2 separate regions of the Homo sapiens genome follow, and region 2 is linked to region 1. Evidence: fine-mapped expression QTL. A gene starts in region 1. The other region holds a variant in brackets. All regions are shown on one strand. Distances are from middle to middle. Region 1 holds the start of TFB1M (transcription factor B1, mitochondrial). Region 2 holds the start of CLDN20 (claudin 20).

What was found. PIP is the estimated chance that this variant, and not a neighbour inherited with it, causes the effect. A credible set is the group of variants that fine-mapping cannot tell apart.
Region 2: its variant is the best candidate, but not a certain one, in a credible set for the expression of TFB1M in whole blood (TOPMed, PIP 0.57).

The regions. Positions count from the first base shown.
Region 1 is chr6:155,311,989-155,316,387 of GRCh38, forward strand. It overlaps TFB1M (transcription factor B1, mitochondrial), which reads right to left and starts at 2,496. Exons shown (of 7, transcript NM_016020.4): 1 at 2,308-2,496. The coding sequence starts at 2,440. RefSeq lists enhancers at 2,271-2,590, 2,589-3,579, 2,661-2,710, 3,261-3,310 and a silencer at 2,761-2,840.
Region 2 is chr6:155,260,083-155,264,481 of GRCh38, forward strand. It overlaps TFB1M (transcription factor B1, mitochondrial), which reads right to left. Exons shown (of 7, transcript NM_016020.4): 6 at 191-318. CLDN20 (claudin 20) reads left to right here and starts at 3,931. Exons shown (of 2, transcript NM_001001346.3): 1 at 3,931-4,206. The variant T/G (reference allele first, on the strand shown) is at 1,529.

The DNA of each region.
Region 1 (4,399 bases):
CAAATTCAAGTTAGCAGCCCTTAAGACATCATAAAAAGGTAGAGTACTGACTCTGTGCAACCAGTCATCACATCTGGAAAAACATGCAATGGGCTGGTCTTAGTGATTCTGAGATATGGAAATCCAAGGAACTGGTCTTCCTAGGATAGTGGAAATTTAGTCACTAAAAACATACCAGCACTTCTTGTAGGTGTTCACAGTCCTATTTTTGCTTGTTTTCAACAACATAACTTTGTCAGCTAAAATGCGGAAACTAGTTTCTCAGCCATCCAAAAATGGTTTAGTCTTTTAACAGGGAGGGAATTAGCATCCACTGACCATCTTATCTATTATGATGGATTTACACACATTCTCACCTAATCCTTACATGTTAACCAAGGACTCCTATCCCAATTTCATTTCTCTTAACTTTTCAGTTTCCTTGTCTATTGTTTTATTTGTACAAGGTCATGGACTTCAACATAGGTATAAATCCTAAAGCCAATGCCTCTCAGAGGGAACAGGAATGATACATTATGGAATAAATTTAATACTCTCCTTCTTTAAAATGGAGAGCTACAACAGTAGGCAGGTCTCTGCTCTCAAACTTTTCAGGCACATTGAAATACAAATGAATATTAAAGAAGCGCTATCAAATCAATGAGCTTGGATTTCAATCTTGCTCTCTTCTGCCTGAGCTTCTAACCTCAGCTAAGTACCCTCATCTCCGTTAACTCTGGTTCCCATAGAAAGAGTGGATAATATCTAGAATTTGAAACTTACTCCTGAAGATAAAGGCTCATGAGAAAATGTATTTGAAGGATTTTAAAAAATACACAGACCTATAACTTCTGCCCTGAGAATGGTGATTTATATTTAGAATGTGGCTAATAACAAGCAGAAAAGGCTGGTACTAGCTATTACTAGAACCAAAGAATTTTAGAGTGGGCAATCTTTTAAAGTAGTAGGCCCTTCTTCCAATTAAAAGATGAGGAAACTACTGGACATGGTGGCTCACACCTGTAATCCCAACACTTTGGAAGGCCGAGGCGAGTGGATCACTTGAGATCAGGAGTTTGAGACCAGCCTGAGCAACATAGTGAAACCCTGTCTTTACTAAAAACACAAAATTAGCTAGGCACGGTGGCTCACGCCTGTAATCCTAGCTACCTGGGAGGCTGAGGCACGAGAATCACTTGAACCGGGGAGGCGGAGGTTGCAGTGAGCTGAGATCATGCCATTGCACTCCAGCTTGGGCAACAAGAGTGAAACTCCATCTTAAAAAAAGAAAAAAAAAAAAAAGAGAAAACTTGAGTTAAATTATTTTATCCAAAGTCATATTGGTACAGGCAGAATAAAGACTACATGTCCAAGAAATAAAACATTTTATGTTTTCTGGAGTGTGCTTCATTTAAGTGAAAATGAACTTTTTGGGTGTGATTTACTGCTCTTTTCAACTTCTGAAGTGGGACTAAATAGAATGAAATATGAAAATCTCAAAACCTAAGTACTCCAGCCGTGACTTAGTAGACGTATTTGTAATATATTTTTGCAACCTCATCTCATAGAACATCACTAAGCAATGGTGATGGTGGTTAAACCAATATATAAATACATTCGTCAAAACTCATCAAATTGAGCACTTCAAACTTATTAATTTTATTGCACATAAATTATATCTCATAAAAAGTAACTTTAAACAATTAGGTGTGGGAATGTAAACTTGCTAAAAGTAAGCTCCTCGAGGAAACACCGCCTTGTTCACGCCCATATCCTACCCCCGGCACTAGCACAATGTTGCTTGTGTAATATGTACTTATGAATGAATATTAGCGCCCCCGAGGCTTAGACTGAACAGGTAAACGTTTAAAAAACGAATCATACGAGGGATACTCTTTTCACCAAGTTATTGATAAAATCCTCGCATCAATTTAAATTCTGGTAACTTTAAACTGCATGTAAAGCAACTGCAGTCAGCATGTGCTGTACTATTTCAGAATGATTGATTTCACAGTGACCCAGATTCCAATATTCACTAGCGCCTTTCACGACCCATGAACCCTTCCTCCCCTAGGGAGCTTGGCATTTATGCAGCCTGCCGGCAGGCTACACCCCCCCGAACGCGGAGTTTTGTGAGCAATCAACGCACTTCACGTGTCTCCTGGGCGGTGGGACCGGAGTTCTGATACAAAGAGGTCGAAGGACCTGACCAAAAGCCCGTCGCACGCCAGTGCCTGGACACCCGCCCGCGGGGACGTGCAAGACCCCCCGGCCCACGCCCCCACGGACACTGGGGAGACATCCGGGGAGCACTGCTAAGCCATCCACCTGTCAGCCTCAAGTCCAGGAGGAAATTCTGTGATAGCTGCTTCGCTGCTTGCAGTCTTAACAACTTAATGATTTCTCGAATCGTGGGCAACGGAGGGAGACGGCAAGTGCTGAGTTTTCCGGAGGCAGCCATGATACGCGGCAAGCACCATCCAACCCTACCTCACCCAGGACCTTCACCGCCGCTCCGAAAGAAACGCGCAGGGGAGGAACCTGCGAGACCTAAGGCCCGCCTCGGAGTCAGCCCCATTGGTCAGACCTATCCCACCGGAAGCGATGACCGCGGACAGGAAATTCCCGGCGTGCTGAGAGCGCATGCGCTAAGTCCTGCCGCGAGAAGGGCAGGCTGGGTGGTCGGCGGCTTCCGCCTGTGAGAGCCGGGGGAGAGCCGGGTGGACTAGGCTTCTCCTGGGCGGGCTATGGGGAGAGCGCCCAGGAGGGCGGGACGAGGCGGGGCCTGGACAGGGTGGGGTTTTTCGGAGGAGTTGCTCTGAGAGGTGCAGCCGGTTTACTCCCGCCCTGAAGTTCCCAAGGGCTTCCGGCTCTTTAACGTTCTAAATACCTGTCTGTGAATATTAGAGGAAAAGCGGGTGCTTAGAGGCAAAGCTACTGTTTGTTAGCAATTCTTTCTTACTGTGAGGCGTTTTTAGAACCGCCGCTCTGCAGATGCTGCATGATGGGTTTTTAACTTCGTTCAGCCTCAGTTTTTTCATCAGTTAAATGGAGCTAATGTCTACCTCAAAATTGTGAGCACTAAATGAGAGAGATCGCCTGGTGTGCACGTTCAGAACATAGTGCACGCATGGCATTGGGTAAGCTCCCACGTGATCAGTGGTGGCTGTTATTATTTGGCAGATGAATAATTGGCCAGTGTAAAGAGGTCATTCGATTTGCTAGGATTACAGCTAAGAACAGAGAGAAGACTGAAATATGAGTTCTGTCTTTCCGTTATACGAGATAAAAACAACGAAGCAAAAAAAAAAAAAAATTAAAGTTTCTCTGATAGGTGGGAGAATTTTGCTGTTTTAACCCTGCTTATGTTTGGACATTGCTGCGTTGATCACAAATGAATTTTAAAGTTTCTGTTCCTCAATTAGTAAGTTTTTAAAAAAGCTAATGGAAAACGAAACAACTATGGGTATGGATATAAAAATGAGGAGTACTTTGAAATTCCAGTGGAAAACTCAACCACCTTCTATAAAAGCTGTTTTAAAAGGAACTGAGATAATCTCCTAGCTTTAAAAAATAGTGATGACTACCATAGAGGTAAGGAGATTTGCCCAACGTGGCATCAAAATGTAGACTGGAAGTACAAACTCTTGATTCAGATATCTTATCGTCCAAAACACAGTATACCTGACAAAGCATTATTTCACAGTTATATTCATTATTTCCCGTACTCCTCACAATGGTCCCATGTGAATGAGATTATTATTCTTAGTTTGCTGTGAAGAAATAGGGGAGGTGAGGTCATTTGACAATGCCCAGAGTCAGACAGCAAAGTACAGAGAGAAGACAACCTGAGTTGTGTTTTTTCTGAGTTCTGATCTCACTGGCCACACTCAAGTATCAGCTTATTATTTTTAAGTTAATATGTGTTAATTTTGTAACATCTAAATATATAGAAATACGAATCTAGGTGTAAACATAAGCTTACAGTTTTCATATGACTATTTAAAACAATTGCAATAAATATATACAAAACCAATACAAATGGTCTTATTAATTGACAAGGATGAACACTGTTAAATCACGACACTTAGTGCTAACTGGCAGGTTTTCTTTTTTTTTTTTTTTTAAGTTTCAGCCTACCAGTGATCCAGTGTGCCATGTAATGACTGAATGTTCTCATTAGTTTTCTGGAGTCAAACTATTACCAAATCTTTGTTCAATTTTTTTTCCATTGTCGCTTGTCTTTCTTTTGGAAGAATATGGAAGCTACATATTAAGTCTGCCTGCATCTGTTTTCAGTAGCTTGGAAACAAGTGAATTTGAATTATTTGGCACTAATGCTACCATGAACACACACGTTGTGTAACAGGTATAAAGAGGATGTTCAGATGACCCCAAATATAATCACATGAGCTTTTTA
Region 2 (4,399 bases), 52 kb before region 1:
GAGAGAGGCCACCTGAGGTCTAGCAAGTCTTTGCTCTCTCCTCATTGGCAGTGAAGTCTTGTCCGTCACAGGCCTGAACTAAGTGTAATACTCAGAGCTTTAAGAATAGAGCAAACAAGGTTCTCACTCTTAAAAAGTGCCTGAGGATTTTATAAAGACTGCAACTGAAGAGAAGAAAAGGCATTCTTACCTGAGCCCTCGATGGCAGTATTTCCTTCGGAACTGAAATACATTCTGAACCACTTTTTCCACCAGCTTGAATGGCTGCTCTATCTTGGGCTGTATCAAGGGAGTGAAGTGCACCACGCCCACGTCCACCTTCGTTGTAAGCAAACATATTATCATTCTGTGGCATGATATGTGGCATAGTGTGATCAATCAACTCATCCTTGTAAAACAGGAGGATGGGCTGTCAACAGCCTGTTTTCATAAACAGACCTTTCCACGTACTTCGGTTTCATCTCTAGGCATGGAAGATGGTACATTCTGGATTCGCAAATGACATGGAGAAATCAGCCGGCTGCACCTGTTCTCTAATGACATCCACCAGACCTGTGCTTGATGGTCACTTAATTTTAAAACACAGTTTCACAATGGCTTAAAAATCAATCCAAATCATTAAAGTCAGTCAGCAGATAATAGATGGCATTAGAATATTTTAGTTTTTGAATGAGGAAAAAAATAAGCCGCAGCAGCAGCTTCAAGACACAGAGAGATGGCAGACAGGCCCCCAGGGACCACTCAGTGCTAAACTTCCCAGATAGAGACACCACTTATTTTCGGTAGACACTGATTAATCAGCTGGACTGAATTCATGAGTGTAGTCTGAAAAGCCACAGAACTTTCTAGTAGCAATTTTAAATGCCCCGAAAGGCATAGGCAGGACTGAAATTGAAAATGGAAACCATCAAAAAATGTCACTGTTTGATAGTGTTTAAGCTACTGCCAGCTGTGGAGATTCTTTAATTGTCAGAAGATAAAACTTTTCAGGCATATCTTATAAGAGATTTATACCCTGATTTGTTCCAAAAATGGACTCATGGTGATTCACAAGGACAAATTCAAATACCAAAGGAAAAACATTTAAAGACAGAGGGAAATGGATTCAAAACAGTAACTACACACACAAAAATGCTAACGGAGACCATGGTCTAGGAAATGGGAAGTCTCGTCATAATTGACAAAAGCCTCAGTCTCCAGGAATTGTTAAACTTGTTAATGAGGATCTCATACAGACTCAACAAAAGGCGAAGAAAGTACGGCAATTTAGGAGGTGTGGGCTGCACCACTGCTTTTCAAAAGGAACTCCATTGTTGAAATCCCATAGAGGTTGTCATTTTCTCCTAAGAGGACTTGCTTCTAAAGATCCTTGTGGCTACATAATTCCTTAAACAGATGAAAATGGGAGACTGGCTTTTCTGGTTGTGTTTCTTTTAGGGTAGAAGGAAAACAACTGAATATGATGTGAGACTTTATGGACAAGAAAGTGAAAATAAGCTGTGCTCAGCCTCACACAGCCTGACGCGCT[T/G]GTGGGAGGTGCCTGTGGTGCCTGAGCTGTGTCATCAAGGCCCCGGACCCCTGAGAGCTTGCACCTCCCTATTTAAACAATCAATGAGCCTGTCCCCGAAGGTTTCAGGTCAGCTACAGCTGCTCCTACTGGATGGAATGGGAAATAGAAGGCTTTGGTGGTAAGGGGCGGTGTGGGCTGGCGCATGCTGAGAATGTGCCAAGCGGCCTTTCCACACCCCAAATGCCCACCCCCAACATCCATCAGCCTTCTTGTGAAGTCCAGCAGGCTGTTCTTGTGAAGATTCTATGGTGGAACAGTAGTTATGAACAGTGACTTAACTAAGATGTCAAATGCTCTTAATAAATTTTAGTAAGTTTTTTGAATTGTGTGCTATATGTTGTTTCATGTTTCCTCAAGTTTAGTAACAACTACCTCTTCCTACAGGACTTCCCTTAGACTTTAACAAAACGCACCATAGAACAGTGCCCAGCTTGGAGAGGTCTGTGGTCATCAGGGAAAGAGGGACTGAAGAAGACAAGGGGCTGTGGAGTGGATGCAGGGTGTAGGTGGGGTAGATGTACTGCTATAGGGAGAGAAGAAAGGTGGTTTCAGCTCAGGGCAGTTCTGGGGAAGGAAAAAGAAGACCTGATCTATGAATGGCAGAGTGCAGGCAGCAGCCCAAGACACACTCCACTGACTTCAGATGTCAGGTTCCTTCCCACAAACTCTGAACTATCCTGCCTACCTCGCCTCCTCCTGATTTGTATAGAGAAGTGGTCCCAACTGTCAGGCATGTGTCTGGCCACTCTCTACACCTCGCCAGCCTTCTCTCACTGGACTCTCCATTTCCCTTTCATCCCCTGAGCTTCCTGGCACCCTTGTCCCTGCCTCCCGTTCTCCAGGACTCATCTCCTGTAACCCTTCAACTCCAGTTCTCCCAGTGACAAAGAGCCAATTCTATCAATTCTTACTAGCAGCCTGCTAGTCTCCAGAAGAAATACTCTTAGCAAAATCTGAGATAAAATCTAATCCCTGCCTAGGCCTAAAACCATGAAATATTATCAAAACTCTACATAAGGCTTACAAACTATTAAGACCAAAAGCACAAATACAGAGATAGATGCACTCTCTTCCAGTACAGAAACTGCCACTTTCAGCTTCCTTAGATTTTAAATTTTGGCCTCATCTTTATTTGCCTGATTTCATTCCTTTGAGATATAGTTGGTATTTGCAAATACAGGAAGTGTCTAACTTTTGCTTGATTTAAATAAAGTTTTAAAACCCTGAACAAATATAGTAGTACCCCATGTAAACTATAGCGTCGACTTCTAAAGTTTGAATACAATTCCAATACTCTGTTAAGTTGGCTTATATTATGTCACGGCTAAAAGAGAATTCCCCTCACAAATGCAGTTACTATTTAGTGGGAGATTCTGTAAAACTCAGCGTCAACAAAGCTCTTCCAGTTATGTCTCCTGCTTCTGGGACGGCCAGGACCTCTCCTGTACCACCCCTTCCTCTCCCTTTCCCCCAAAGGCACCTTTCAGAATTACTCTGAATGATGGAGCCCATTTTTTTCTAGAACTATAGGAAAGCTGCTTGGTAACTATGGTAACGAATACAAAAATGTTTTTTACTTATAATTGAATGCTTATTTAAAATTACAAGTATTATTTTTTCTTCCTTGAGTTTTAAGTCTATTAATGGGTTTGATTACAAAAAAGAAATCAGTACAAAGGCATCAGAAGTACTTAAAATATTCTAGTTTAATGCCGCCAGCCTTTTCCAAACTCAGTCCATCAGTATACCAAAATGACCTACTAAAATTTCAAATGAAAGGATTTAAAATGAATTTAAATATTTGCCTTTCTAACCCTATACGTCAACGCTGTAACAAGCTAAGACTGTTTCTCAGTGTTAGCAGCCTTGGCCATAACAGGCCCGAGGCAGATGTCCTAGTTTCCAGGCCAGGGTGTCTAGGACGTGACTGGTTATCAGCTCAGAGCAGCACTTGGAACTCACAAGGGACCCGGGCTAAGGAGATATTAAATCTTAAATCTTAGATATTAGATATTACAACTGAGAACTGTAATCAACATGATATACAGAGGACACTGAAGAGACGTACAACTCAGTTCCTGATGATTATCATATGCCCAAAAGCTAAGTCACGACCACATGCACAGACACAGAAACAATGCTGGCCACTGTCTACAAAAGGGTCTTCATTCAACACTCTCACGGTGTTCAAGACCATTAGAGGACAAGATAGTGGAGATGAAAAAATGATGAGGAAGTTACTATGTAAATAGCCAAGACACAGCCATAACTTAAGACAACAGAAGGGCTAGTGAAAAAAAAAAAAAAGACCACAGGGAATAATCAGTAAGACTTTAAAGAACAACATATAAGAAGGATTCAAAGTTCGAAGTGGGATGATCACGGGCAGACCTGGGTGGTTGGGAACAGGAAGCATATGGCATCTTGCAGGCTATAGGCACCACAAAATGGAACGCAGGAGGACAGGGGCTTGGGAGAGCCACTTCACTGTCGGGTAAAACAACGGAGCAAGATGAGTGCCTCCGGATGCTTGGTTTCCCCACCCTCCAGTGTCTGCTTGCTCTTCAAGTACCTCCACCAAGCTAATGACAGTCCACTTTAGGACATCACGGGCCTCGAGGTTACAACTTTCCCAGGTAAGGAGAATCCCAGGTAGAGGCAGCAAGTCACTGATGCCTGTGATATGATAATTATGCATGTCATAGAAAAAGAAAATACTGACAAATGTGAATGTAGATCACATTTTCTGGAATTGGTTCACTCTACCTGTGATCCATGTCCAAAAGCCAATTTAAGGAAAGAATTTCCACTGTAAAACCTTAAAGCTGA